Regions from separate parts of the Homo sapiens genome. Here regions 2, 3, 4, 5 and 6 are each linked to region 1. Evidence: fine-mapped expression QTL. A gene starts in region 1. Each other region holds a variant in brackets. All regions are shown on one strand. Distances are between the middles of the regions. Region 1 holds the start of KLRD1 (killer cell lectin like receptor D1). Region 2 overlaps LOC124902875. Region 3 overlaps LOC105369656 (a long non-coding RNA gene). Region 4 has its middle 11 kb from the start of GABARAPL1-AS1. Region 5 holds the start of LOC124902875. Region 6 has its middle 38 kb from the start of GABARAPL1-AS1.

The links. PIP is the estimated chance that this variant, and not a neighbour inherited with it, causes the effect. A credible set is the group of variants that fine-mapping cannot tell apart.
Region 2: its variant is the best candidate, but not a certain one, in a credible set for the expression of KLRD1 in visceral fat (GTEx, PIP 0.57).
Region 3: its variant is the best candidate, but not a certain one, in a credible set for the expression of KLRD1 in whole blood (INTERVAL, PIP 0.59).
Region 4: its variant is the best candidate, but not a certain one, in a credible set for the expression of KLRD1 in atrial appendage (GTEx, PIP 0.89).
Region 5: its variant is the best candidate, but not a certain one, in a credible set for the expression of KLRD1 in tibial nerve (GTEx, PIP 0.79).
Region 6: its variant is the best candidate, but not a certain one, in a credible set for the expression of KLRD1 in left ventricle (GTEx, PIP 0.57).

The regions. Positions count from the first base shown.
Region 1 is chr12:10,304,791-10,309,869 of GRCh38, reverse strand. KLRD1 (killer cell lectin like receptor D1) reads right to left here and starts at 2,000. Exons shown (of 6, transcript NM_002262.5): 1 at 1,786-2,000; 2 at 390-482; 3 at 182-244. The coding sequence starts at 1,792.
Region 2 is chr12:10,258,719-10,263,797 of GRCh38, reverse strand. It overlaps LOC124902875, which reads left to right. Exons shown (of 5, transcript XM_047429945.1): 4 at 1,098-1,172; 5 at 1,460-2,690. The coding sequence ends at 1,488. It also overlaps a transcript of KLRD1 not described here. Among named protein-coding and RNA genes, the nearest start is that of GABARAPL1-AS1, 46 kb to the right of the region's middle. The variant C/T (reference allele first, on the strand shown) is at 2,366.
Region 3 is chr12:10,283,391-10,288,469 of GRCh38, reverse strand. All of the region lies in intron 1 of LOC105369656 (a long non-coding RNA gene), which reads left to right. It also overlaps a transcript of KLRD1 not described here. Among named protein-coding and RNA genes, the nearest start is that of KLRD1, 22 kb to the left of the region's middle. The variant A/G (reference allele first, on the strand shown) is at 2,411.
Region 4 is chr12:10,223,447-10,228,525 of GRCh38, reverse strand. No RefSeq gene overlaps it. Among named protein-coding and RNA genes, the nearest start is that of GABARAPL1-AS1, 11 kb to the right of the region's middle. The variant C/G (reference allele first, on the strand shown) is at 2,435.
Region 5 is chr12:10,272,016-10,277,094 of GRCh38, reverse strand. LOC124902875 reads left to right here and starts at 4,433. Exons shown (of 5, transcript XM_047429945.1): 1 at 4,433-4,558. The coding sequence starts at 4,477. It also overlaps a transcript of KLRD1 not described here. The variant G/A (reference allele first, on the strand shown) is at 2,707.
Region 6 is chr12:10,250,570-10,255,648 of GRCh38, reverse strand. It overlaps a transcript of KLRD1 not described here. Among named protein-coding and RNA genes, the nearest start is that of GABARAPL1-AS1, 38 kb to the right of the region's middle. The variant T/C (reference allele first, on the strand shown) is at 2,220.

The sequences.
Region 1 (5,079 bases):
ATTCAGTGTAATTTAATCATTTTTACATTAGATTGAGCAATGTAAAATGAGACTATCCTACACTGGTAGGCAAATTTCTATTACTAAGTATAATATTCCATCATGCCTCTCTGTGTGAAAAACAAGAAACTGCCTATTTAATCTTTTACCAATGCTAAGTTTTCCAAAAAATGTGACCTACCTTTCTGGAGTTCTATGTTGGGTCCTGGAGTAAATGCTGGCTCAATACTCAGTTTAGTAAAAGCTATAAGAAATGATTAGAAATTTGTTTAATTAGGTATGGGTTTATGAAATACTAAAATATTACACATTAGCAAGATGAAGCCTTTATTATTAAATGATGTCTTCACAGTTTTGATTTTTATGGAGACTTGCTTAGAAAAACTTACAATTTTTCAACAAAATTCCCAACGTAGACATCAACGAAAGGCATATTATCCCTAAGGTCCCAGAAATTAACCTCCACAGAGTGGTCTTAAACACTGTAGAGAAAGACAGACAGAGTAATGACTTAAAGAGCAAACTCAGGAGCTGAGTTCTTAAAAGCAGAAACTAGTGACGGAGAATCCACAACATTCTTTCATTTGATAACGGAGTCATCTTGCCAATAAAACACTGAAGACTTTCCAATCGGGACTTCACCCAATACCAACATTTTTATGTGATGTATCTTATTCTTCAGGAAGATTATTCAAACATTTTCTTCTCTACCAGCTCTGTTGCAGTAAAGTGAATTTACCATTTATTTTAAATTGGCAGAGGTGCTTAAAGATCTGGAGGTAGAAGATATTAACAAGCACCACGTTGTGTTTTATGGACTTACATAACAGGCATTTATTTTTATTCTCTCAACAAAATCACAAGATAGATAGTATGGTTCTCATTACATAGATGAGAAAACATAAGGTCCAATAATAATGTTATTTTCTCAAGGTATCAAAGCAAGTAAGTATCCAAGTCAGAAATCACATGAAAGTGTGTCTAGCTCAAGAATCTTTCATTCAACGTAGTCTACCATTGTCACAATAATACTAGTTGAGAGTATGCCCTCTCCTCATCTCAGTGCAGGTTTTGCTCTGATAAATGTCTAGCTGCTCATTGGTTCGTAGAGATATTATAGGGAAAAGAAGACATAGGAACATTCTGGACTTGGTGTGATAACTGATAACAAATTGATGGGTAACAACTTTGAGGCCTGGCTTCATTTCACAGTATATTGAACATACATAAACAATCCTTTTTCCCCTAGAACATTCCATTTGTTCATACTCAAAATTACTTGCTTTTAGGCCTTTCACCTAAAACATTTCAACATTAGGAGATTCTGTGCTAACGTGAACACACTCTCAAAGAGTGATGTCATTAACAACAGTACAATGTGTCAAACTGTTCATTTGTGTAATTTTTGGATGTCACAACATAAATAGTCAATTAAAACCTTTTCAGCATTGTGTCATTAATATTTGGCATTTTCTATTGCTATACTAGAACACTGTTGCTCACAATTTAACCAGGCTAAAGTTCAGTTCTCACTCAGAATTTAAAGGTAGCCCTGTCAGAAACCACTCTTCAAACCTGTGGAAAAAACTTCATGAAATCATGTCTAAGTTATACAATGAAGAATCAGGAAAATATAATGAATGTGGAAAGTGCTAATGCATGAAAATCCTAAAAACATCCACTGTTAATCATGTCCTTTTCTCTTAAAGCATTACCCCAAAATCAGCCAATCCAAGAAATAGCTTTTCTGGTTATTTTTAATTTAGTGACTGAAATCACACATACCTGCCATGAGAAATTATGTTCCAAGAGCGAAGTAGAGAAGGCACGATGTGTACTTTTTCAGAAAGAACAGCGTTGAATTGTTGAAGCTGAGCTGGAGATTAAAGAATCTGAAAGTTGAGTATGAAGAAATTTAGCAAAAATAGAGAATGAAAAATTGTGTATTTAAATGATGTTCTTGAATCATCTATTGGTGAGACATGTATTATAGTGTGAATAAGAAGCAGTAGAATCACAAGCCTCTGAAGTGTTCCAGGAACCACAATACAGGAAATTCTCACAGTACTTTTGCAATATTAACACTTTGGCAAGGACTAAAGAAGGTGAGAGGAGGTCAGAGGGAGTTTTGTTGCTGTTTTGTTTTTTATTGTTTGAAAATCAAATTCATTTTAAAGGGTTATCTGGAAAATGAAGGAAATGATGGGCAAACCAAAGGTAAATTTACTTAGCATAACAAAATTACTTACAGAATTTTCCTCTTTTAATAATAAACATTTATTATTTACCTTGTACTTAACACAATTTAAAGCACTTGGCATATCTTAGCTCATTTATTTCTGTAAATGGCTTGATAGTAAAGATATATAAATATCTTCAATCTATCAAAGAGAAAACTGAGGCATACAGAGCTAAGTAATTTGCCCAAGGTCACATAAATTGGGATTTCCATGTCTCACTCTGTTCTTCTGATCTCTACCTAATTATCCTGGCCACGACAGGCAAAGTTCAAAAAAGTAGAACTGGATGGGTTTCCCACTTGGACGCCTCATTCACGTTAGCCTTAAAAGCTTTTTTCAACACCTCAATTTTCATTTTCTTAAAGTTCTTTAAGCACGACTTCAGCTTCTTTATTTTCCTTATTTTTACTAATACATTATTATATTGTTTAGTGTGTTATCTAATTCAGATACTATACTGATACTTCGATATACACTTTTTCATCTACAGAAGAGTAACCTTGTTAATAGGAATATCAAATGTGGAACAGGTCAAATTTCCAATGTGGAAGAGATTGGCTATAATAAGAATCTTGAAAGGAGAGATTTCGATCCATGATTTAGTATCTGGAAATACAATCTACCATGCACCCCCATACAAAAGCAGACACTCAAATAAACGTTTTGTGTATTATATTTTGTATATTGTTTATGTTCAAGCATTATAATATTACTATAGATAAACCCTTTTGTAAAAGATGGGCTTTCAACCAACAACAGAAAAAAATGAAAGAAAAGACTACTTTGACTTCTCAGTTTTTATGAAGTCAAAACTTTCCATCTTTTCAGTTTGCATTGTGTGCCTAGAGCTGCTTTCATTGCACCAACAAATTTGTTGAGCTATAAATCCTCACTGAAGAATATAAGCGTAAAATCTACTTCATCCAGACTGTATGCAAATCTTAGTTGAAGTGATTTATTTAAAAATCCTTTGCTTACTTGAAATCTATTCATTTTTAGTGTTAGAAAAAGCTGGTCTGGAAGAAACCTGTCTGATACTATTTTTCCCCCATGTAAAATTGCCTCAAAATATAGGAGATTAGGGGTTTGCTTTTAGTTTTTCTCTTGAGAGAGTACAAATTTATGACAGAATGTGCAATAGGGATTATTACTACACTTTCATTACTAACACAACCACCTTTATTTGGAAGTTAGAGGTTCTAAGTTTTTAGAACCCTGTTTGGTGAGAATACGTCCATCAGTCATTGTCCTTTTTTTCATCTTAGTTCACTGACTTAGAAATAAAAATCCAACAAATACAAGTTTACTTCAAGAACTCCAGGCTTAAATATTTAAGATACCTAAACACACACACACACACACACATACACACACACAGTAAACATATATGTATATACCTCTTTAACTCTTTCTGAGCTGCCAACTCTGATTGTTCTTTTTTTGTTTGTTTTTGTTTGTTTGTTTTTTGAGATGGAGTCTCTGTCACCCAGGCTGGAGTGCAGTGGCTCACTCGGCTCACTGCAAGCTCCGCCTCCCGTGTTCACGCCATTCTCCTGCCTCGGCCTACCGAGTAGCTGGGGCTACAGGCTCCCGCCACCACGCCCAGCTAATTTTTTGTATTTTTTTTTTTTAGTAGAGACGGGGTTTCACCGTGTTAGCCAGGATTGTCTCGATCTCCTGACCTCGTGATCCGCCCGCCTCGGCCTCCCAAAGTGCTGGGATTACAGGCGTGAGCCACCGTGCCCGGCCTCTGTTCTTTCTATTTATTTTTGTACGTAGACAGGTGAATGATTTCCATGTACTGTATCTCTCCCACTCATCTCCACTTGTTCCTGAAGTTATCATTGCCTCGCCTATGTCCCTTGGAATATTTGGGGAACTATGGCCAACTAGTTATCTGTATAGCTGTATCTATGGGTTCTTTTTTTCTCCAATAACTGCTGAAAGCCTTGCTGTTCTCAGACATGCTAATCCGGAAGTGCTGAATAATCATCACCAGAATGGGCGTCAACAAACGAATCTTGTGATTTGCTATACAGTCCAGCAGTCTCAGCCCTAAAGTCAGGTAATTCTGAACATTGTGTTTTGCCCAGTTCCCAGAATTACTCAATAGTGTTATGTTCCAGTCACCTCCTCTAGAAGCTAGATTAAGAAAATAACCTTTATTGCGTTCCACTTTCCCTTTCCTATTACATTTCCTTTCCTACATTTATTGCATACACAATTCCAAATAAAGTTTCTACTCAAAGTATTCTCTGAGTGTGCTGCCGAGAGAAACCAGACTAAATTCCGCTGAAATATCCAGCTTCACTTACATAAATTTGCTTTTGAAAAGTTAGGTATCCTGCCAAAAGAACGTCTCTCTTTGCAGGACTTTCCATCCCCTAGTATCCATTGCAGGAAGATGCCCTCTTCCTCCCCTGCAATTTACTAGTGCCCTTGGTAAGAGCAAGTGATGACTTCAATAGCTAAGTCAACTTTTAAACCTTAGTCAAAAGCCAGGGAAAAGAAACTAATGTTCACTTAACATATAAACAGTGAAGTCTTTTCCCTACCTAAAAATGTATAACTAAAATGTTGCAGAACAAAATAACAGTATACGTTCTAGTATCCCCAAGGGAAAAATTTATTTTGATCTCACTGCTTTTAGAAAATGCATTCTTTGAGCGGAAAGAAAATTGCTCACATCAGGCTGCAAATTATTCTTTTAACAGAGAGAGAGGGCTCCCTGAGAAAAAACAAAAGACGTTACTGACCTGGTAAAATCTCATTGTAAACATGCTAATAACAAACCTACTAGCTATAGTGGTTTCTTATATATAGTGTGTTTTGCTTGCAA
Region 2 (5,079 bases), 46 kb after region 1:
GTCTGGCGAGGGAACGACTCAGCAATACTTATGACATTTATTTCCATGAGTCTAGCAATGCATCTGGTACTCAAGCTGGAATAACATGGTTCAGATAACTTAAAATCATGGGGACATGAGTTTGTACAGGACTAAACTGAAACTTTGTGGGTAAAATATTATAAGATTTTGTTATTGGACAGGGATCAGATCTGATCTCAGTAAAGCAGAAATGCAGACAGATTTCTTCTACAATTCATGTCAAGTCTCCCAAATCTTTTATACGTGACCACGGACCATTAAGACTAAAATTAATTCAAATTAGGGATATTCATTCTTATTTTAAAAATTCAAATTGTGCCATCTCTAGTGCCAGATTCATAAAAATATTATAGAACACATCAATGCAAAATCATGTAGTTTAAAGATTTCATATATGAAGGTAGTTAAAAATATAACTGGTTAGAAAAAGTACAATTGTGTAAATGGTACAATTTTGTATAATTTTAATGTTAATGAATTAGAATTTTAGCATATAAATAGTTCATAGCCTCTGAAGATGATTGAAAGTGTACCATTATTCAAGGTATGCTTTGGGGGTGTTTACTCTGGAGGCAATTTGTGGAAAATACTGGAAAGTGAAAATTAGAGAGAGTTTGTATAATATTAAAATAGCTCAGCATAAAAATAATGACAATCTGAGTAGGAAAAAGCTATGTTACTGTGAAGAAGGAAACAGATATATGAAGCATTGTCGTGATAAACAGTACTTTGTGACTGATTAGACGTACACTACGTCTAAGGTGTTTGCTGCAAAAATAGCATAGGTTGTTTTTTCCTGACTGCCTGGGTTAACTAACTGCTTAGAATAACATCAATCATATATACAAACATGTGCTTATTAAATCACCAGTCATTGACTCATAAATATATTTCATAAGTAAAAGTTCATACCTTAATATAAATTGCAAATGATAATTTACAATTTGTTCTTCATTCAATTAAAACAATGAATGCATAAATTGTGTGTAAGAAATTTTGGATATCTGTTTTATTTGCCATCCCAAATGTTTGAAAATGATAATAGTATTCTCTTTTGCAAATATTGTGAATTTCAGTTCATTGTCTTAAAGAGATCCTGAATAAGGCAACCATTGAGACTGCACATTGCAACATAATATCACAAAACAAAGGTAAGTATTGGTTTACAATGGGAATGTTGGTATCTATCACACATAAGCTGTTTAAATCTAGATGTATTTTGTAAATATATGTAAATATGTATTAGGTAAATATTCACTTTGTAAATATAAGACCAAAGTTAGTTAACAATGGTGTACTTGTCAGAAAAACTCTCGTATATCAGGACTTCTCTTGAAGTTAGGGAGGACAATTGAAAACAATAATGCAAAAATTATAATTCACTGAATGACTGTAGGGGACAAAGTTATCTTCTAGCATGTTCTTTTTGTTTGTCAAGGTAATTGGTCTTCCTTTGAAGAAAACTGACATTTTATATCTACTGAAAATAAAATCTTGGCATCAAGGAAATTTGTTCTGAAGCATTGAGCTCCAGTCCCATCAAGACCAATAATGAAGAATTGGAAGTGTATAATGTGGTATTCATTCTTACATTTTCTTACACATCAGATAATTATCAATAGAGAATTTTTAACATATTGTGTTCACTTAAGCATGCTAAACTCAACATTTTATAAATTGGAGACATCTCAATCAAACTCAAAAGATTAAAATATGACCTTAAAATGATTTTAGATTTTAAATATATTTGCATACAGAAGTAAATGCAAATATAAGAAATTTCAAATGTTGGCTAACAATGGGGGAAAACATCACATAGACACAGAAACTAAAGGGAATCTGGTCACAAGTGGCAACTAAAAAAGAGCTAATATTTGTTGATTGCTTCAAATATTCCTGGTACTACATCAATGATTGTGGGCATTAACTCACGTGTTTTCCCATTAATCTTATGATACAAGTATTACCACTGCCATTGTTGTATTAATAAGAAAACCAAGACCCAGAGAGAATGATACTTTTTTTCTGGGTATCAGAAATAGTAAGAATTAGAAGCTTAAACTATGATTTAAGCTAAAAGAGTCTAACTCTAAAGATCAGGAACATAGTCATTATGCTTTGCTGATCCCAGAACAAAAAATCATAATGAATCAAATTGTAAGAATATTGCTTCTTTGTAAATAGTCAGAGCTGCTTATACAAGCAGATTTACGTTTTTCTACCCTGCATGTATCTTCTAAAGAGGAACAGTGAGAAAAAGAATAATAGCTCTTCATAAGGACTATTTTGATACTAATTATTGTTTGGAATGTGAATAAAAGACATTAACAGCAGTAATGTTTCC[C/T]GCAGTAGATCCTAGCAAGCCTAAAGAATATAGATGTCTTTTATATTTTAGTTCTCCTCTACTATGTGACTATTACTTCTATATTATTTCTTCTTTTTCATTGTATTGAAGTTCTGTTATTGCCTTTAATAAAGACTTCAATTCAGATCAATGATGGTAAATTTATGGCATATATGCTGAAAATTTCCATACAGTATTCTTAGAAGGTGCTCTTCATAATTGCAACATCCTTCCCTACTGAGCCAGACTTCACTTTGAATAACTTTCAACAGAGCACACCAGAAAGTCTCTTCCAATTGCATTACTCTCATCTCATCTACATACGGTGCTTCAAAGTGAACTTGTATATACACATCAGCAATGAGCTCTTTCAGCAAGAGCAAACAAAAAATGCACATAAAGAGCAATGAATTTGCTAAGGCAATTGCTCCTAATGGTCTATTACCTCAAAAAAATTTTTTTTTTTTGGTTTTTTGTTGTTGTTGTTTTTTGTGATGGAGTCTCACTCTGTGTCCCAGGCTGGAGTGCAGTAGCATGATCTCAGCTCACTGCAAGCTCCACCTCCCGGGTTCATGCCATTCTCCTGCCTCAGCCTCCCGAGTAGCTGGGACTACAGGTGCCCACCACCACACCCGGCTAATTTTTTTGTATTTTTTAGTAGAGACGGGGTTTCACCATATTAGCCAGGAAGGTCTCGATCTCCTGACCTTGTGATCTGCCCACCTCGGCCTCCCAAAGTGCTCGGATTACAGGCGTGAGCCACCACGCCCAGCCCAATTTTTTTTTGTATTTTTAGTAGAGACGGGGTTTCATCATGTTGGTCAGGCTGGTCTTGAATTCCTGACCTCGTGACCCACCCACCTCGGCCTCCCAAAGTGCTGGGATTACAAGCGTGAGCCACTGTGCCTGGCCTAAAATTTGTTTTTATAAATCACAATTTCCCCATAACCTAGAGTAGAAGAGATAATATCTGAATTTTCCACAACTGATAGAAAATATCAAACTACATACTATCAAAGGCTTATGAACTCCAGCAGGGTGAATAAAATGACAAGTTAGGTGTATCATATATAACTGTTGAAAAAAAAAGACAAACAGAAACTTACAGGTAGGAAGAGAAGCAAAGTTTACTTTCAAAGGAGCAACAATTATAATGGAAGCTAACCTACAAAAAGAAAAAGAAAATGAAGGCTATATGATTATTGATTGACAACAACTGCCATACTAAAATTCTATCCTCAGAGGCAATCATCTCATCAGATGGGAATGATATGAGCATTTAGTTATACAGATGGGAATGATATGAGCATTTAGTTATACAGATGGGAATGATATGAGCATCTAGTTATACTCCATAGGTAAAAGAAAGACCATTTAAGTAGAGCAAAAACAATTTATTATATCTTTATATCTGTATTAAGAAAGTACACTAGAAGAATATCTTTTTTTTGTTTTGTTTGTTTTGTTTTGATGGAGTCTCACTCTGTCGCCCAGGCTAGAGTGCAGTAGCATGAATTTGGCTCACTGCAACCTCCACCTCCTGGGTTCAAGCAAGTCTCCTGCCTCAGCCTCCCAAGTATCTGGGATTACAGGCATGTGCCAAAACGCCTGGCTAATTTTTGTATTTCTAGTAAAGACAGGGTTTCACCATGTTGGCCAGGCTGATCTCAAACTCCCAACTTCACGTGATCCGTCTGCCTCAACCTCCCAAAGTGCTGGGATTACAGGCTTGAGCCACCATGCCCAGCCCACAATATTCTTTGGGTTTAAGAAAATGATCTCAGATGAGACCTCAAAGACTCAGGATAAAAGACAATGAAATAGGTAAATACAGATGTAAGTCTAAATGAATAGCAATTATATGAAACCATAAATAATGTCCACTACTTTAATTGCATAAAACTAAAGTTTACTACAGTACATACACTTACATTAAAGAGTTGCATTTTAACTCAAAAGAATAATAAATAGAACTAAAAAGCTCTAAATTTCTTATAATGGCTAGGAAAATGTAAAGTAACTACATATATTGGACATTAATAAGTCAAGGATGAATATTATGACTTTCAGAAAATGACCAAAATAATAACAAAATATTCTACATAACTATGATGATGATGGAGGAATGCATCTTAAAAATGGAACAACAATAATGTGATGGAGTAATTGTCAATCACTAGAACAATATTTAATTAAGCCAATAAGAAGAATTGCATATTAGAATAATTCTTAGAATTTTACACTGAAGGCTGTGGGCATTCTAGCCAGAACTATCTACTGTGTCTTTAGTGGATATTCAGGAGGCCATGGGTTACTCAGGGTGGATATTACAGAACAGAATAAATGCTTTTGATCTCAAAAGTAGAAGCATCCCCAGGTACCTCGGAATCACAGTTTCCTAGTGTTTCTCTTTCCCATCAACTAAGTCTTGCTTGCAGACTAATTCTATTTATCTCTGCTCATTGCTCCTTTTGCTACAAATGATCTAAGTTTCTTTGGCTTCTTCGTAGGTCTTACAGATTCCCTTTTCCCAAGGTTTGGTGTATATATCTAGAGTTTGGGAAAGCATAAATATATATTTTTTCAACCTCTTTTTCTAATGAAAGATAGCCATATGCATTTGTGTGAAGAAGTCATATTAAGAGTCTCATTTTCATATTGTTCTTCACTCTCTATTTCTTTCAGTGACAAGTGAAGACATGAATTAAACATTC
Region 3 (5,079 bases), 21 kb after region 1:
GAGTCATTTTGCATAACTGTAAGAAAATTATATTTTATTTTGCCTCGATTGTGCTGGGAATTTTTAGTTTTTGTTCAAATTTAGATAGATAAATTGCCACAGATATATTGAATGTAGGTTTATTATATAATAATTACAACATATTTACATAATGTATACATATGCATATATATGCATGCACACGTACTTGACTATGTACTGACTGATCTTTCTTTTTTTTTTTTTTTGAGACGGAGTCTCGCTCTGTTGTCCAGACTGGAGTGCAGTGGCGCAATATCGGCTCACTGTAACCTCCACCTCCTGGGTTCCAGCGATTCTCCTCCATCAGCCTCCTGAGTAGCTGGGATTACAGGCACGCACCACCATGCCTGGCTAATTTTTGTACTTTTTTTTTTTTTTTTTGAGACAGAGTCTCGCTCTGTCGCCCAGACTGGAGTGCAGTGGTGCGATCTCGGCTCACTGCAAGCTCTGCCTCCCAGGTTCACGCCATTCTCCTGCCTCAGCCTCCTGAGTAGCTGGGACTACAGGCGCCCGCCACCACGCCCGGCTAATTTTTTGTATTTTAGTAGAGACAGGGTTTCACCATGTTAGCCAGAATGGTCTCGATCTCCTGACCTCATGATCCGCCTGCCTCGGCCTCCCAAAGTGCTGGGATTACAGGCATGAGCCACTGCGCCTGGCCTGATCTTTCTTACAGAGGTAAAAATCCGTATTTAGACAGATAATTAAACTAAGTTATCCCCGTAGTTTTGTATAACCTAGGGGTGGTTTTTAAAGTCCTAGCAAATTTTTAGTTACATATTTTATTTCCTCGTTTCTCCATTTCATGCTTCTGTCTTCTAAGAAGCATAATTTAATTCGTAAAAGTATCTGTTTATATATAACAATATCTATTTATAGGTTTTATAATACTTCAGTATATAAATAATTCACTTGAAAAGGATGTTGGCACCAAAATGGATGGTCTTTTTTAAAACTTAGAATTTATTTGGATTTGTTTGAAGTTAGGTTTCATGGGAGGAAATGCTCTCATTATTTGTATAACATTTTTTTGCAACCTATCTGTGAGAGGTCTGAGTGTTAAATAAAAAAAAATTCGGAGTTATTTGTATATATGCATGTATTTGTGTATGAAACAAATACCAGCAAATACTTATTGACTATACCAATCTCATACATACCCTTGCATTCTCCCATGGCTGTCTAACTTCAAACCTGTGCCTTACAATGCATATCCATCTTTGCTTTTAGGTACAGTTTCACCACGGTTTTTAATCATCAAAAAAACACAAACAGATAAACAATAAAAAAAAAGAGGGTTTTGTTTTTGTTTTGAGACAGAGTCTCACTCTGTCACCCAGGCTGGAGTGCAGTGGTACAATCTCAGCTCACTGCAACCTCTGCCTCCCGGGTTCAAGCGATTCTCCTGCCTCAGCCTCCTGAGTAGCTGGGACTACAGGCGCACCACCACGCCCGTCTAATTGTTGTATTCTTAGTAGAAATGGGGTTTTGCCACATTGGCCAGGCTGGTCTCGAACTCATGACCTCAGGTGATCCCCCTGCCTCGCCTCCCAGAGTGCTGGGATTACAGGTGTGAGCCACTGCACCTGGTGCCCAGTGAGGTTCTTTATAAGAACAAAACTGAATGTAAACAGTTACGGGACCAGATGCGGTGGCTCATGCCTGTAATTCCAACACTTTGGGAGGCCAAGATGGGAGCATGACTTGATCTCAGGAGTTTGGGACCAGCCTGGGCAACAAAGTGAGATCCCGTCTCTATAAAAAAAAAAAAAAAAAAAAAAAAAAAGCACCATAAGCGAAATAAAATGATGATTCAAAGACTATTTTGCATTCAAAACTAATTTCTAATCAATCCTTATCAGGTAATTATTCTTTCTGCTTCTTCAATCTGCTAAATACAAGATGTCAAAAGTGAGTAGTTTCAAATGTTTGATTCTGCTTTTGGTAGATCGTAAACTTGAGTAGGTTACATAACCCCTTTAAGATTCTTTTCCATCATGTGTAAAACGTAAAATGCAACTAAATAGTTTATTGGAAATATGTTCTGAGAATGGTTTAATGTATAAACATATAGGGTATTTAACACCTAATTAGTGCTCAAAACCATTAAGAAACATATTGAGGTAGATAGGACATAAGCTATTCATTATTAGTTACAGTGAGTTTGCAGACTGAACTTTAAGCTTTCACGGAAATCTCCGGACTCTGATATGACCCTGGACCCCTGTGAGACCTCAGTCATCAGTACACTTTATGTGTAACAGGTGTGGCTGACACATCACACCGTATGGTACAGAATGTTTCCAACCACAGAGTTGCTGCTGCCTAAAATAACAGTTAACACCTACACTGGTCTTGGTGTGGCCGCAGGATGTTGGGGATAAAGTGG[A/G]TGGGTAATGGGTAGAGGAAATGGCGTGTCTGGCGAAAACAGTAAGATGCTGTTGCAAACAATATTGGGAGTTGAAGCAATTTACCTGGGCAAAAAGCAGAAGACACAGCTTAAGGAGGAGAGAAGAGACCAGAACTGAGGTTTACAAGCATGGATGTGGCTGATCACTAGCACTGTAGCTGCGCTATTTTTGTTATTCCAGCAAGTGTAAACATAGGAAACATTACTAAACTTAGAGCTGTGACAATATTTACCTGTTAAGAGAAGAGGAGGGAATAGGAAAGAGTCAATCACAAAGAAAAAATAACATAAGAATCATAAAGCATTGACTGGACTGTAAATACTAGTCATATTTTCTATGAGATGATTTTTAACTGGAATTTTCTTCGGATAATGTGCTTAGAGATAGCGTGTTTTGTAGGTGGAAATAATGGGCAGGTAAAGACACACAAAAAAAACAACTTTAAGGTACCATGAAGAAAGATGTTAAATAAAACCATGTGAAAAATTATCCTGGTGACTATTGATACACAAAGGACTTATTTCATATTGGAAGCTTAAAGAAAGGAATGGTTTGTCCCTGAGTTATTTCAGAACCCTTATCATGACAGAATGGTGACTGTAACAGGAATTTTTCAGACTAGACATAAAGATGGTTCACATGAGAGGAAAAGAAAACTAGCATATGGCAAAAATAATTTCTAGAATAAACGTGACTTGACTGGCTGTGGTTTTACAGACTGTTTTTAAAAGAAGGAACCCATTTTTATCAGTCACACGACTCTCTACTTAAATTTCAATTTTAGCAACAACACAATCTAAAGGTAAGAATTTATTTTATAAATAGTAGTAAAGAATTTTGAAAATACAGAAATGATATTTTACTCCAGGTTAATATGCAACATTGCTAGCATGGTACACTGGCAACATCAGTAGAGCCAGATAATGAAGAGAAATCTCACAGGAATAGGGCATAGATTGTTCTTTTATATATAGTTCTCTCACCATACATCTAAAAACTTTTAAGTGGAAACTAAATGATGTGTAGGATACAGAGACCCTAATTTCTTTTTTTTTTGAGATGGAGTTTCGCTCTTGTTGCCCAGGCTGGAGTGCAATGGCACGATCTGGGCTCACCGCAACCTCCGCCTCCCAGGTTCAAGCAATTCTCCTGCCTCAGCCTCCTGAGTAGCTGGGATTACAGGCATGCACCACCATGCCCGGCTAATTTTGTATTTTTAGTAGAGACGGGATTTCTCCACGTTGAGGCTGGTCTCGAACTTCTGACCTCAGGTGATCTGCCCGCCTTGGCCTCCCAAAGTGCTGGGATTACAGGTGTGAGCCACTGTGCCTGGCCCAGAGACCCTAATTTCTTATCTGAAATTTGTGGAGAGAAATGTACTTTAAAATTTATTAGTTTTTATTTTAAAATATATGTGTTTATACATACATGAATTAACAGCCTCATTGGCATTTGATGATTCACGCTATAACCCAGCACATTAATATTTCCACAGCAAAATGTATAAAACAAAAACTATGATTAGCTAAGTTCAGGTTTTGGAACCAAACTAATGAAAACATTTTGTTTACAGAGATTTGGTTTTTAGCCTTATGGATAAAGAACTGGGGACTTATCTCCTGTGTCAGTATGTGGATTAAATTATACTCAATTCTTTGTTCAAAACACCTATTCCCCACTTACTGAGCCCCTCCACATGTGGTTTCATACTGATAATTTATCTGAGTGATTTTACACACATGTTATAGTAAACCTATGTATAGATTGGACAAGGTAAGTTGAATCTCTTCACAGAATATTGTGTTAACAAGTCTTTTGTTGTTGTTGTTGTTGTTGTTACTGTTGTTTTTTGAGAGAGAGTTTTACTCTTGTCACCCAGGCTGGAGTGCACTGGTGCGATCTGGGCTCACTGCAACCTCCACCTCCCAGTTCAGGTGATTCTCCTGCCTCAGCCTCCTGAGTAGCTGGGATTACAAGCGCCCACCACCATGCCCAGCTATTTTTTTTTTTTTTTTTGTATTTTTAATAGAGATGAGATTTCACCATGTTGGCCAGGCTGGTCTTGAACTCCTGACCTCAGGTGATCCGCCCACCTCGGCCTCCCAAAGTGTTGGGATTACAGGCATGAGCCACCATGCCCAGCCAACAAGTCTTACTTTTGATTGAGTATGAGAAGTATCTCTCCCAAAATATAATGGTTCTATGCATTGATAGATTTGGTTTCTTCCACTCTGTCAGTCACTTTTCTCTTTGTCCTCCCTGGTTTTCCCCTGTTCTGCTTGTTTCTTGGGGTGCTGATTCCTGCAACACATGTTTCACCACCTCCATGGCTAACCAGCTTCCAGGTAGGTGGAGTCAATGGAGCCACTGGGTTGAGATTTGGAAGGTAGGAAGAGGGGAGAAGCCTGTTATTTTGTCTTTCCCCTCTCTGCTTCAGGCTTTATCTCCTGCAGTGACCACACATGCTATGTACTGGTCTGTTTTATTTAATTTTAATATTTATTTTATTGTGATAGGAATACACCATGAGATCTACTCTATTAACAAATTTTGAAATGTACAATACAATATTGTTAAGTCTAGGCACAATGTTGTACAGCAGATCTCTAGAGCTTACTCATTTTGCATTACTAAAACCTTATCCCCA
Region 4 (5,079 bases), 81 kb after region 1:
AAGTTGCCTAGTGGTTCAGTCCTATCAAAAACTACTATTTCAATATTTTTGAATGCCAACCATATGCCATTCACTGTTCTGACCAATTGTTGTATATCACTACACAAAAAGTTTCTGCCTTCCTGCACCTCAGGATCTAGAGAGAGAAGACATAATAAACTAGAAAATTATGTTACATGATCACTACGAAGCAAAAAAGACAAAGACCAAGGTTGAGAATGACTAGGAGAAAGGGAAGTAGGGGGAAGGTGTTGAATATTAGAGATGTTCAGAGTTGGTCTCCTTGACATAGTATCTAAGACTTGAAGGAGGTTAGGAACTAGCCAATTTTAGCACGTAAAATATGGCTTATTGTTACTTTTATCCTTTGAATACCATGTGCATATTGCTTAAAGAAGCAATAAAGCCATCATCATTCTTTTACTGAATGGTATGAAGCAACTTTGAGCCTACTAAAAGTGTAAAAATAGAAAACATGTTTCAACTTCTCACCCAAAAGTTCAGGATCACTTTATTCAAGTTTTAGGAGCTAAGTACTTCTAAACAGAAGTCCTAAGGGTCTTAAATACACTGCTTTTGAAAACAGAACTACTGAAATAGATGGCCCCACCGTGATGAAAACACACCAGGAGAATGACTTGTCTTTTGTTAGTCACTGTTGAAAACATGCACACCTGCACAATGGCATAGTGAAATGTCATTTGACTACTTTTAAGGGTGATAACTTCCTGTTATTTCAAACTCTGAAAATAATCTAGCCATGGGTACATATACTTAAGAAGTGCCCACAACCAGGAGGAAAAAAAAAAAAAAGGAAAAGAAAATGAGGCAGGGCCCTACACAGGGTAACCAAGCTGAGATCATCAGTCACAGCTTTTGGAACAGGGATTCTAGTATTTGTGTGTGTGGACTTTTTGTTGTTGTTGTTCAGCTACTTATCAAAGGTAAACAAAGGGGTGGGTCGCTGGGCAGTGGGCATAGGTGAGGAGGGAATTCTCCATTACTCAGACAGCCTGGACTCAGAACCACCAAAGGCAAAATGGACTTGTTTCTGAAATATTTGGTAGTTTCATGCAGCTAAAAATAACTAAAGTTAAATAAATGTTTGTAGCTTGTTTAAATCTGGCAAAGCAAAAACATCCAAAAGAAACCACAGCTAGAAATAGTTAATTACAAATTTTGTATAAGAACTAATATGAATTTATCAACTAGTTCATTTTCCAAAATGACTGAATTTGTCATTATTACAGCTGACTTGATGCTGTACCCACGGGCAGGTGGATATGCATGGCCCCCCTCCACACACCACTTCAAAATTACAACACACCTGTTCTATCTGATGGTACCAGTACCAATAGAATGCAGAATTGTAAGCTTAATAAGTGTAACACTCTCAAGACAACTGTAACTGACAAGACTTGTGTCCAAAGGGCCACTGCAGTGACCAGGGGACTGCACTGCACCACTCTGGGGGGGCTCTATTCATATTTTATAGTGATGAGGCAGTGCATGAGGCAGTGATCTTGTCTGCCTGGTTACTACTGTACATTAATCATAATTTGCTTTGTTCTTTTGCGATCTTAACTTCTGATTGCACAATACAGTAAAAAAATTTAACAATGCTTTGAAAGCACAATGCTTTGAAAGAGGAAAACAAGTCAGGGTTGGGGGAAAAATCAAGAAAAGCAGAATAGACTGCCATTCACAAGTAGAATGATTTGTCTAGTCTCCCTCCACCTGACAGGGTAAGACCCATACTGGGGAGCACTAAACCTGGATGGCACAGGCATTGTGTCTCTCTTGATGGAAGAGGCTTCAATGTTTATACTACATAGAGAGTGACCACATATTTCGTCCAATGGGGGGGGGGGGGTCATGTGACAGTGAAATAAGGAACCACTAATAAATCAATCAGGACAACCGGCATAATTCAAGACTATCTTTGGCAAACTTAAGATGTATGCTTACCCTACATATATTTGAAATCTTTCTACCGAAGTGTATGGAAGAGCTAAGGACTCACTCATCTTTGATGTTCATGTCATACTGGCCTCCCTAATCTCATTTGACACATCATTCAACCTTTATCCCCAGAGAGAAGCAAGTCAATCAGAGTAAGCCAATCTAACTAACAATCTAACTAATCTTAACATGGAACACTGGGCCAGGTTAACGAAGGGCTTCTTAAACTACTTTTAGCTCATGACAAGCCTCACAATGGCCTGACGGCACAAAGAAGCATTAAAAGCTTGACTAGCAGAAAACATGGAAGCGGCGCTGAGAAGAACTGACCTTCAGTAAAGAAGTGCCAAATCCAATCCAGCCTGCTGAGAAGTGACAGCATGCTGGCAGTCCTCAGAGCCCTCGCTTGCTCTCGGCACCTCCCCTGCCTGGGCTCCCACTTTGGTGGCATTTGAGGAGCCCTTCAGCCCCC[C/G]CACTGCACTGTGGGAGCCCCTTTCTGGGCTGGCCAAGGCTGGAGCCCACTCCCTCAGCTTGGAGGGAGGTGTGGAGGGAGAGGCACGAGCGGAACCGGGGCTGCGTGGGGCGCTTGCGCGCCAGCTGGAGTTCCGGGTGGGCGTGGACTTGGCGGGCCCCGCACTCGGAGCAGCCAGCCAGCCAGCCCTGCTGGCCCGGGGCAATGGGGGACTTAGCACCCGGGCCAGTGGCTGCGGAGGGTGTACTGGGTCCCCCAGCAGTGCTGGCCCACCGGCGCTGCGCTCGATTTCTCGCCGGGCCTTAGCTGCCTTCCCGCGGGGCAGGGCTCGGGACCTGCAGCCCGCCATGCCTGAGCCTCCCACCCACTCCATGGGCACCTGTGCGGCCCGAGCCTCCCCGACGAGCACCACCCCCTGCTCCACGGCGCCCAGTCCCATCGACCGGGAAGGAACAAACAACCCAAGGGCTGAGGAATGCGAGCGCACGGCGCGGGACTGGCAGGCAGCTCCACCTGCAGCCCCGGTGTGGGATCCACTGGGTGAAGCCAGCTGGGCTCCCGAGTCTAGTGGGAATGTGGAGAGTATATCTAGCTCAGGGATTGTAAATATACCAATCAGCACCCTGTGTTTAGCTCAAGGTTTGTGAGTGCACCAATCGACACTCTGTATCCAGCTGCTCCGGTGAGGACGTGGAGAGTCTTTATGTCTAGCTCAGGGATTGTAAATACACCAATCAGCACCCTGTGTTTAGCTCAAGGTTTGTGAATGCACCAATCGACACTCTGTATCTAGCTGCTCTGGTGGGGCCTTGGAGAACCTTTATGTCTAGCTCAGGGATTGTAAATACACCAATCGGCACTCTGTATCTAGCTCAAGGTTTGTAAACACACCAATCAGCACCCTGTGTTTAGCTCAAGGTTTGTGAATGCACCAATGGACACTCTGTATCTAGCTCCTCTGGTGGGGCCTTGGAGAACCTGTGTGTGGAAACTCTGTATCTAACTAATCTGATGGGTACGTGGAGAACCTTTGTATCTAGCTCAGGGATTGTAAATGCACCAATCAGCGCCCTGACAAAACAGGCCACTCGGCTCTACCAATCAGCAGGATGTGGTTGGGGCCAGATAAGAGAATAAAAGCAGGCAGCCCCAGCCAGCATTGGCAACCTGCTTGGGTCCCCTTCCAAAAGGTGGAAGCTTTGTTCTTTTGCTCTGCAATAAATCTTGCTACTGCTCACTCTTTGGGTCCACGCTGCTTTTATGAGCTGTAACACTCACTGGGAAGGTCTGCAGCTTCACTCCTGAAGCCAGCGAGACCACGAGCCCACCGGGAGAAACGAACAACTCCAGACGCGCTACCTTAAAAGCTGTTAACACTCACCGCGAAGGTCTACAGCTTCACTCCTGAGCCAGCGAGACCACGAACCCACCAGAAGGAAGAAACTCCGAACACATCTGAACATCAGAAGGGACAGACTCCAGACACGCCACCTTAAGAGCTGTAACACTCACCGCGAGGGTCCGCGGCTTCATTCTTGAAGTCAGTGAGACCAAAAACCCACCAATTCCGGACACACTTCCACAACAGCTGGTGTGACTTTGCCTCTGAACTTGGCTGTTATTTAAAAACTCCACTGTTTCGTAAAATCAGACAGCTTGTCGAAAATGATATGTAATGTCCTATCCAAGGACAAAATTTGTTCCTTAGGAAAATCCAGGAAGTAGGCCTACAATAAGCAAAGCCTACCTGGGAGAGACACAGCCCCTAAATTCAAACGATCTCTTTGGTTTAGCAATGGCCTACAGTCTCTTGCCCTACAGGGACTGTTTCAGATGTGTACAGAGGGTTAGGATCTGCCGCCATGTGTTTTTTGCTTTCTTTCAAATATTCATCCAGTCTCATTCCTAGGTCATGGATAAATCTGTTAGTTTCAAAATACAGTTCACATCTTAAACTCAAATATTAGCTTCCTTTTGGCTTTATCAGGGAACAGCACCTTGATATTTTTGTCATTAGGGACAAGTGTCCATTTTCAATGCCTTCATCAAAATTCCGTAATCTTACATAATTTTCTGCATGTGGTGCTGCTTGGCATGGATCTTTTATAACTTCCTACTTCCTTTTTGGTGACCTTGATATATTCCCTAACTCTCTACAGAGGTAGACATCACTTGGGGATATGACTGCAAGAGATTAGAGAGGGTTAGAGATGGGTCTTAAGGTTTTTCATGAAAGAAGTTTTCACTAATCTGTTTTCCATTCTCTCATTTAACTTGCATGCTCAAAGCCCACCCACATATTCGTTCCTGAATAACTGAACAAGACTTTCATATGGTCAGAAGACACCAAGCTTGTTCTGATGCCGGGAGCCTTGCCTAGGTGCTATTTGCTGCTTTGGGAGATGGTGGCTTCAGACTGACCAAGTTGTGATGGAGAGAGTAAGGTGTGGTTGGGACCTACAGCAAAACCTGGTGCAAAAAGCAATGACGCTCAAACTTCAGTGTGCAGCAGTCATATCAGGAGCTTGTTAAAAATTAGACACCTAACGCTGAGATTCTGAGTCAGCTAAATCTGGGAGATGGCCTAGACATCTGCATTTGTAATTAGCACAGCCCACCCCTTACCTCTACGTAGGCAGTCTTCC
Region 5 (5,079 bases), 33 kb after region 1:
CCTTTGTATTTATTTCATTCATTCTGCTTAATTTCTTCTTCAGGCTTGACTTTTATTTTCTCATTTGTTGCTACTGCCATGCCCTAACCACACAAAACTAGACTTAATGGTGAGTCATCTGAATGATTTTGTTTCCACTTATTTCTTATTTTCCATTACATACGCCTAATTAACTGTGGCATGCAGCTAAATTAAATTTCATCATCTCTTGTCACTAAGTATGCAGAAAAGAATAATTAAAATTTTTAAAAAGAAACTTCATCTTCTCTTTTTCTGTGTCCAGATTGCATATTCTGAGGATAGAGGTCAAACTTCCTGGTGCTAATTCATATCAGGCTCTCAAATTTCACCTTGATTATCACTGGAAATTGACCATTATTTTACTTTTTTTTTTTTTTTGTCAAATTTTATGGTGGCACATGCCTGTAATCCCAGCTACTCGGGAGGCTGAGGCAGGAGAATCGCTTGAACCTGGGACGGGGAGGTTGTGGTGAGCAGAGATCATGCCATTGCACTCCAGCCTGGGCAACAAGAGCGAAACTCCGATTCAAAAGAAAAAAAGAAAAAGAAAAATTTCTTATTCTCAATACCAAGATATTTTGTTGTTATTTTCAAATTTTGATCACTGCCCTTAAACCATCTCTCTTACAGGAAGTGAGCAAAGGCCAAAAGGATAAAGATACTAAAAGGCTGTGATAAACAGAAAATGTCAAAGGCTACCCTAGAGAAATTTATAAACATTTATACCCATATACCGACCTAGTCACTAAATATCCAAACAAACAAAGCACAAGAACAGAAAACATATTATAATTTTAAATATAGATTACAAGTGTAGTGAGGTGATAATTTAAGAAATACAGAGAACATCCAAGGACTATTATTTATAATAGTCCTGAAAAGAAAGCAATTAAATGTCCATCAAAGGTAGAGTAAGTAAACTGATTGAGAGTATATCATACAAAGAAATTACATACACAAGTAAACTACAGCTGTCCACAGCAACACAGATAACTCTAATAAATACAGAATAAAACAATGCAAAAAAAGTATAGTTTCATTCTATTCACACAAATATAATTAAAATAAGCAAAAAAGCTACTAAGAATATGTGCATAAGAAGCAAGAAAATCAGAAGAATGATTAATTCTAGGAGGAAGCATTGTAATAAGGAGGATCAATGCAGGAAACACTCTGGGGTGTGGTAATATCTATCTTTACTTAACTTTTATCATTATTCATTAATCTCTACATATATGTTTTCTGTCCTTTCCTGTATGTTTGTCATATTTCAGAGGGAAAAATATTAATTGATTTATCTAATTGGTAATTTTTATTATCATAAAAGTTTATCTTAAAAAGAGTGGAGGATATACAAACGCAGTTTTGCATATTATCTCACTTGATATTAGAGGTATGACTAAAATAACATTCCATTGTAACTGTGAACTTTGAATACCTGGTTTCTCAAGTAACTCAACAATTCCCGCAACACCTAACCCTAACTACATGCTTCGGATAAGGTAAACTTAAACTAAATCAGCTTCCCCCGATGGTTGAAAGAACATTTTCTTCCTGAAATAGTATCTCTGGAGCCAGACATCATGTGGATTTGCAGGTTGCATTAACACCACCACCGGTTAAAAAGATCAGCAGGTCAAGATTTCATTTTAAAATAGTCTAAATTAGTAATATTTCTTGTCACCTAGCAGGAGAAAATACAAACTTAATTTGTAATGTTCTCTAGAACAACCCATTTCATCCCAAGCTTAATGATTTACCATGAATAAATTAGTGAGAAAGATGAGACACTCAGAGCTAGAAACAAATAAAAAACTAAGCACACAAGCAAAGTACCCGAAAAAGAACCAGTAGGAACAAAAAAGACAGAAGATACAAAATAACGGCTAGGCACGGTGGCTCACGCCTATAATCTCAGCATTTTGGGAGGCTGAGGCAGGCAGATCACCTGAGTTCAGGAGTTGGAGACCAGCCTGACCAACATGGTGAAACCCCATCTCTACTAAAAATACAAAAATTAGCTGGGTGTGGTGGCAAACGCCTGTAATCCCAGCTACTCAGGAGGCTGAGGCAGAGAATCGCTTGAACCTGGGAGGTGGAGGTTGCAGTGAGTCGAGATCACACCATTGCACTCCAGCCTGGGTGACAGAGCAACACTCCTTCTCCAAAAAAGAAAAAGATACAAAACAACCATTACCTCAATAATCAGACACATGGTATAAATTAATTATATTTACCATGGTTAAGGGAACATAAGACAAATTTGGAAATGTGTTTAGAAAACAAAAAACTCTTTAAAATACATAAATTTATGGAGTTGTAAAAGAACTAAATATAATTTTTTGAAAGACAAAATAATATATTGGATATATTTAATGTCTACTTAGACACGGATGAAGAGAGAATTAATGAATTGAATGACATTTCTGAAGTCATTTTTCAAAACACAGCCCATAGAGACAAAGAGACAGCATGAAAAAGAAATTAAACATATGGCAGTTTAGACAAACGCCTCCAGGTAGCACAATTTAATCTAATTGTGTTAAAGGGTTATATTAAAATTGTGATATACTACTGTTGAATTGAAACTTTGATTATTATTAAAAGACCCATCTTCTTACTACATTTTTCCTTAAAGTGTGTTTTGTCAGATATCAGGAGCTATGATACTTTGGTTTGATTAAT[G/A]TTTGCACTACATAAATGTTGATCTTCTATTTTCAACCATTTCACATCCTTATCTACTAGATGTAATTTTTGTAAATAACCTGTAACATTTAAAAAAAAATTTTTTTTTGAAATGGAGTTTCAATCTGTCACCCAGGCTGGAGTGCAATGGCGCGATCTCAGCTCACTACAACCTCTGCCTCCCGGGTTCAAGCGATTCTCCTGCCTCAGCCTCCTGAGTAGCTGGGATTAAAGGCATGCACCACCACCCCCAGCTAATTTTGTGTTTTGTAGAGACGAGATTTCACCACATTGGTCAGGCTGGTCTCGAACTCCTGACCTCAGATGATCCACTCACCTTGGCCTCCCAAAGTGCTGGGATTACAAGCATGAGCCACCATGCCTGGCCAACATTTAAAAATTTTTAAGAACCCATTGTGATAATTTTTAATTGTTTTTCCTGGAACATTTACAGAGTTTACCTTTACTGTTGATATGTCTGATTTTTTATAATTTACATAAATTTATGCTTTCTACTTGTCCTTGCCTGATCTTACATCTCTCCCCCACTCCACCCACCCTTATAACTTCTTTTGAATGTACGTATTTTTCTCAATCTATTTTTTCTTCTGTAATTTTTGAAATTATACTTTCATCATTTTACTACTCACTCTAGAATTTAATCCATGTATATATGAATTATTAATATCTGAAGTTGATCATCATCTTTGCACTCTTCCAAAACAACTTAAGACCCAACAATGCTCCATAGTCTGCCAATGAAATTATATGCTTTTGTTATGAAGTTTATTTCTATCCATCAAAGGAGAGGGCAGTTGACCTGTGGTTACTGTGGTGTGTATGTCTCAGAGCATACATTAGACTATAAAAGAAATTTCACATATGCACACTTTAGTCCTTTCAATGATAAAAACAAATTATGCTCATCAGAAACAGTAACACAAAAATAGAAAACCACATATGAAAAATACAAATTTAACAAGTTAATGACCAAAATATTATTACATTACAATCTTTTCAGGTCAGACATATAATCTTATTCTATTACAAACACACATATAATTATAGAATTCTTTCTACCAAAATATAAAGTTATACTATGTAATACTTTTACTTTTTTCCACTTAATGTATCATGGAAAATTATCCACATAAATACCTGAAAAGCTATCTCATCTATGTTTAATGACTGTAAAAATTTTATTATAGAAATAAGTACTAATTGTTTTCATTATTTAATTTGACAGTTATTTTACTTTTTAAAGTGAAACATCCATTGGTCATTTGAAAAATTAGATAAAGCTGTGAATAATTATGTTAGAGATTATATCGAGGGAATAGGGTTGTATGTTGTGTTCAACTGAATCATCTACAATGAGCATAAATATTTACAATCACAAAAAAGGTATTTCTGAAAATCCGTATCTGTTACAATCATTCAAATGCAATGTCATTTATTTATATTACGTTATTTAGTCTATTGTTTTCTAATTTTAAAAAAATAGCAATTAAGGCAAAGAGGAAATCTTTATGGTTAATATTTAAAATTTTATCTTTAGAAATAAAAAAGTGGTTCATCATACATAAAAGAAAAAACAAATTTAATTTGTAAGAGTACATTATCTTTAATTTTCTTAAGTCAAAAACATAGTTTACATATTAGCCTTACTGTAAACATCCTCTCTGATGTCGCAATATTAAGACTTCTGTTGCCTTGGTCCCATCTCATTCTGACCCTGTGCTCATTGGCCCTTACAATTTAATCTGAACAATGGAACCAGAGACATCAGCACTGTCCAGGCTCTCTCATGATCTTCAACCTTCGCCAGTGGCATTTCATGAAATAAATACAGGTAAAACCAGATTCTGCTGTTATTGCTAAATCATCTCTTCTTTTGATGAGAAAATAATATTAAAAATAATGAGTTCATAACCAGGTACTTTTAGAGGAGGATTTGAAAATCTTTTGTCTTTATAAATGAGTTCAGGATTTTCTAATTAGAGGGGACTTAAATCTCAGAAAATTATAGTTTGGTAAGTAAATATTTACAGTTGCACTAGGTTTAATATTATTTAGGGTAATGTTATTGACTTTTGGTGAATGTCATTGACTTTTGGTGTCTATGAGTTCTGCTTCACTTGTACTGAAGGAATACATGCAATATGTTGTGGAAGGAATTTATTTAGTGAGAATTAGATAACGGCTTTTCATGCTCCTTTCATTAGGATTAAATTCAACTATAAGAGGAGGCAGAAATAGGCATTTAAATTAATTTGAATATTTCTACTCTTGCTTCTATTTCCAATTTTACTGCAGATGCTAATGCCCATTATATTCTTACAATTACTATTCTACACCACCGGTATTATTACT
Region 6 (5,079 bases), 54 kb after region 1:
TAAAACTAAAAATTTGAAAATTAGTTAGAATGTAAACAACACTTTTAAATAACCAATGAGTCAAAGAAAAAATACAAGGGAAATTAGAAAATATCTTAAAGCTAATGAAAATAAAAACACAACATACCAAAACATACGGGATGCAACAAAAGTAGTGCTTAGAGGCAAATTTATATCTTTAAATACATTGGAAAGAACATCTTAAACCAACAACCTAACTTCATCCCTTAAGTAACTAGAAAAAGGAAAATAAATTAAACCCAACGCCAGCCAAATGAACAATAAATACTAGAAGGTATGTACATAAAATAGAGTGGAAAATAGAGAAAATAAACAAAGCCAAAAGTTGGACCTTAGAAAAGATTAACAATATTAGTAAACCTTTAGCTACAATGAATAATTTTTAAAAGTCCTCAAATTACTAGTAGATATAAGACACTGCAGTTTAGCTCTTTGAGGAATCTCCGTACTGCTTTCCACAAGGGTTGAACTAATTTACACCCCCACTAACAGTATATAAATATTCCCTTTTCTCTGCATCCTCACCAGCATCTATTATTTTTTGACTTTTTAATAATAGGCATTCTGACTGATGTGAGACAGTGTCTCATTGTGGTTTTGATTTGCATTTTTCTAATGATCAGCGATGTTGAGCTTTTTTCATGTGCTTGTAGGCCACAAGTATGTCTTCTTTTGAGAAGTGCCTGTTCATGTCCTTTGCCTACTTTTCTTTTTTTTTTTTAATTTATTTATTTTTGAGACTGATCTCGCTCTGTTGCCTAGGCTGGAGTGCGGTAGCGCAATCTCAGCTCACTGCAATCTCCGCCTCCTGGGTTCAAGTGATTCTCCTGCCTCAGCCTCCAGAGTAGCTGGGATTACAGGCAGGCGCCACCACGCTTGGCTAATTTTTCCTTGTATTTTTACATGAGACAGGGTTTCACCATGTTGACCAGGCTGGTCTCAAACTCCTAACCTCAGGTGATCCACCAGCCTCAGTCTCTCAAAGTGCTGGGATTACAGGTGTGAGCCACCACGCCCAGCCTTTTGCCTACTTTTTAATGGGGTTGTTTGTTTTTCTCTGGTAGATTTGTTTAAGTTCCTTCGAGATGCTGGATATACATTAGTCCTTTGTCAGGTGCATAGTTTGCAAATATTTTCTCCCAGTCTGTACATTGTCTGTTTACTCTGTTGATAGGTTTTTTTTTTTTTTTTTTTTTGAGACGGAGTGTGGCTCTGTCGCCCAGCCTGGAGTGCAGTGGCGCGATCTCGGCTCACTGCAAGCAAGCTCCGCCTCCCGGGTTCACGCCATTCACCTGCCTCAGCCTCCAGAGTAGCTGGGACTACAGGCGCCCTCCACCGCGCCCTGCTAATTTTTTGTATTTTTAGTAGAGACGGGGTTTCACCACGTTACCCAGAATGGTCTCGAGCTCCTGACCTCGTGATCCACCCGTCTCGGCCTCCCAAAGTGCTGGGATTACAGGCGTGAGCCACCATGCCCTGCCCTCTGTGGATAGTTTCTTTTGCTGTCCAGAAGCTCTTAAGTTTCATTAGATCCCACTTGTCAATTTTTGCTTTTGTTGCGATTGCTTTTGGTGTCTTTGTCACGAAATCTTTGCCCATTCCTGTCTGTGTCCAAGATGGTATTGCCTAGGTTGTTTTCCAGCGTTTTTATAGTTTTAGACAGAACTACCATTCAATTCAACAATCCCATTACTGGGTATATACCCAGAAGAATATAAATCCTTCTACCACGAAGACACATGCATGTGAATGATAACTGCAGCACTTGTCGCAATAGCAAAGACTTGAATTCAACCTAAGTGCCCATCAATCACAGATTGAATAAAGAAAATGTGGTACATATACACCATGGAATACTGTGCAGCCATGAAAAAAGAATGAAATCCTGCCTTTTACAGGAACATGGATGGAGCTGGGGGCTACTATCCTTAGCAAACTAATGAAGAAACAAAACTAAACACCTCATGATCTCATTTATAAGTGGGAGCTAAATGATAAGAACTTATGAACACAGAAAAGGAAATCACAGACACCATGGTCTACTCAAGGGGATAGGGTGAGAGAAGGGAGAGGAGCAGAAAAGGTATCTATTGGGTACTGGGTATAATGCCTGAGTGATGAAATAATCTGTACAACAAACCCCCATGACACATGTTTACCCATGTAACAAACCTTCACAGGTAGCCCCAAACCTAAAA[T/C]AAAAGTTAGAAAAAAAAGACACTGTGAAAGAAAAGATGCCCGAATCCGAAGACATTGCAATGAAAACTAAACAAAATGAAACACATTAAAGAGCATTTAAAAAGTGTATGAACGGAGTATCAGTGACCTGCGGGACAGCTGCAAGGGGCCCAACGTACGCCTAAAAGCAGTCTCTGGATACATAGGAGGGGGCAAAAAGTATTCAAAGAACTTACAGTTGAAAACTGAGATTTAAATACTGAAATTGAAATGTTTCCAAATTGCTAGAACTATAAGCATATAGATCTAGAAAGTCCACGAACCCCAAGCAAAAGAAACATAAGAAAATCTACTTACATGTACATTATAATTAAGTTCTTCAAAACTAGTGATAAAAAAATATTAAAAGCATTAGATAAGAAATGTTTTATGCAGAGGATTGTCAAACTTTGTTTATTAAAAGTTAAATTATTCATCTTTTTTTTTTTTTTTTTTACAACTGCCCACTGACTCACTCAGGACAGCAAAGCCAGTAATGCTATGTTCAATCAAGCATTCTAGGCCCAAGTCACAACTCACACCACTGCACTCCCAACCCTGGTTCATTCCCTTTTGTGTACACACAGCTGCGATAGTTTTACTCCCTACCACCCCCACCATTCTTCTTCAGTGTCATGTCTTGGTTCACTTGAATCACCTTCCTCTGAAAGTTATTCCTCTTTCTCAAAGATGAAGTCTTCATGTTCATATACATTCTCAAGACACATCCTCTCATGGAATCTACTGTCTTCCCTGTAATGGTCATTCATTTAGTGCCCTTGCTTGTTTAAGACAACTAATGATTCTATACAATCATGAATTCAAATCTTAAGTAACATGAGGGAAGAAGAACTAACTTCTTATAACTTGAGAATGTGGTGGGGTTTGTTTGTTTGTTTGTTTTTTGGAGACAAGTTCTCATTTTGTTGCTCAGGCTGGAGTACAGTAGCGCAATCACAGCTCACTGCAGCCTCAACCTCCAAGGCTTGAGTGATTCTTCCACCTCAGCTTCCCAAGCAGCTGGGACTACAGGTGCACATCGCCACGCCCAGCTAAGTTTTGTATTATTTATAGAAAATACGTAATACACCTGCACATCACCACACACAGCTAATTTTTGTATTATTTATAGAACATACATTTATAGAACATAAATATGTTGCTGAAGCTGGTCTCAAAATCCTGAGTTCAAGGGATTCACCTACATCAGCCTCCCAAAGTGCTGGGATTATAGGTGTAAACCACCATACCTGGCCTAGTGTCTTTTCAATGACAAAAACAAGAGTAAGATTATCCACTTCAATAAGCAAAAAGCAGTAATTTAATTTGATGTGATTTTTAAGAAAATCTTTGTTTCCTCTGAGGAACTGGTATGTTGTCTCTCCAGAATTCAGGAGAAATGTGTAATTGACCAGACCAGAGGTCCCCAAGCCCCAGGCCACAGACCGGTACTGTGGCCTGTTAGGAACCTGGAGCACAGCAGGAGGTGAACAGGGAATGAGTGAGCAAAGCTTCACCTATATTTACAACCACTCCCCATTGCTGGCATTACCACCAGAGCTCTGCTTCCTGTCAGGTCCGCAGAGGCATTTGATTCTCATAGGAGCACAAACCCTGTTGTGAACTGCACATGCGAGGGATCTAGGTTGTGTGCTTCTTATGAGAATCCAATACCTGATGATCTGTCACTGTCTCCCGTCACCCCCAGATGGGACTATCTAGTTGCACAAAAATAAGCTCAGGGCTCCCACTGATTCTACATTACGGTGAGTTGTAGAATTATTTCATTATATATTACAATGTAATAATAATAGAAATAAAGTGCACAATAAATGTAACGCACTTGAACCATCCCAAACCATCCCCCTCTTGCTCCCATCCATAGAAAAATTATCTTTCATGAAACCGGTCCCTGGGGCCAAAAAGTTTGGGGACCACTGGACCAGACCATTCCTTTTTGTGTTTGCCAAAGAAATAGCATAAAAGGGCTGGGCATGGTGGCTCATACCTGTAATCCCAGCACTTTAGGAGGCTAAGACCGGAGGATTACCTGAGGTCAGGAGTTTGAGACCAGCCTGGACAACATGGTGAAGCCCTATCTCTACTAAAAATACAAAAACTAGCCCGGCTTGGTGGTGCTTGCCTGTAATCGCAGCTACTCGGGAGGCCAAGGCAGGAGAATTGCTTGAACCTGGGAGGCGGAGGTTGCAGTAAGCCAGGATCGCACCACTGCACTCCAGCCTGGGCAACAGAGTGAGACCCCATCTCAAAAAGAAAATAGTATAATAACAAATAATCACTCACTGTCCCAAACTCCAGAGTGAAAGGTTAGTATGTTAACATCTGTAGTTAATGCTAGTGAGGCAACATATGTTAGCTCCAGTTTATGGAACTTCAGAAATCCCGATTACAAAATTATGACTACATTAAATAAGTCGTTGATAATGATGGTAAATGAACGAAACATGGCACTTGCGGCTGCTTTCAATTATCCTTTCCTTAACCAGAAAACATGCTCTTAAATACCTGAGACTTTCTCCTGGTCTGGATCTTCTCTAGCTTCACAGACCCAAGACCCTTTATATTACCTTAATACGCTATCCATTTTTAAAGTATTATGTGACTTTGAAACCACTTCGTACTGACTTGCCTCAACATATAATGGAAGTTAATAATCAAAGGGGTGTTGCAAATGTAAATTTTAAAATGTGTTTAAAAGGTAACTGATAAATTAATACCCAAGTTTTATCTAGGTCAAGCAGAAAACTTTGGGACAAATACAAAAATTAGCCTGGCATGGTGGCGGGAGCCTGTAGTCCCAGCTGCTCTGGAGGCTGAGGT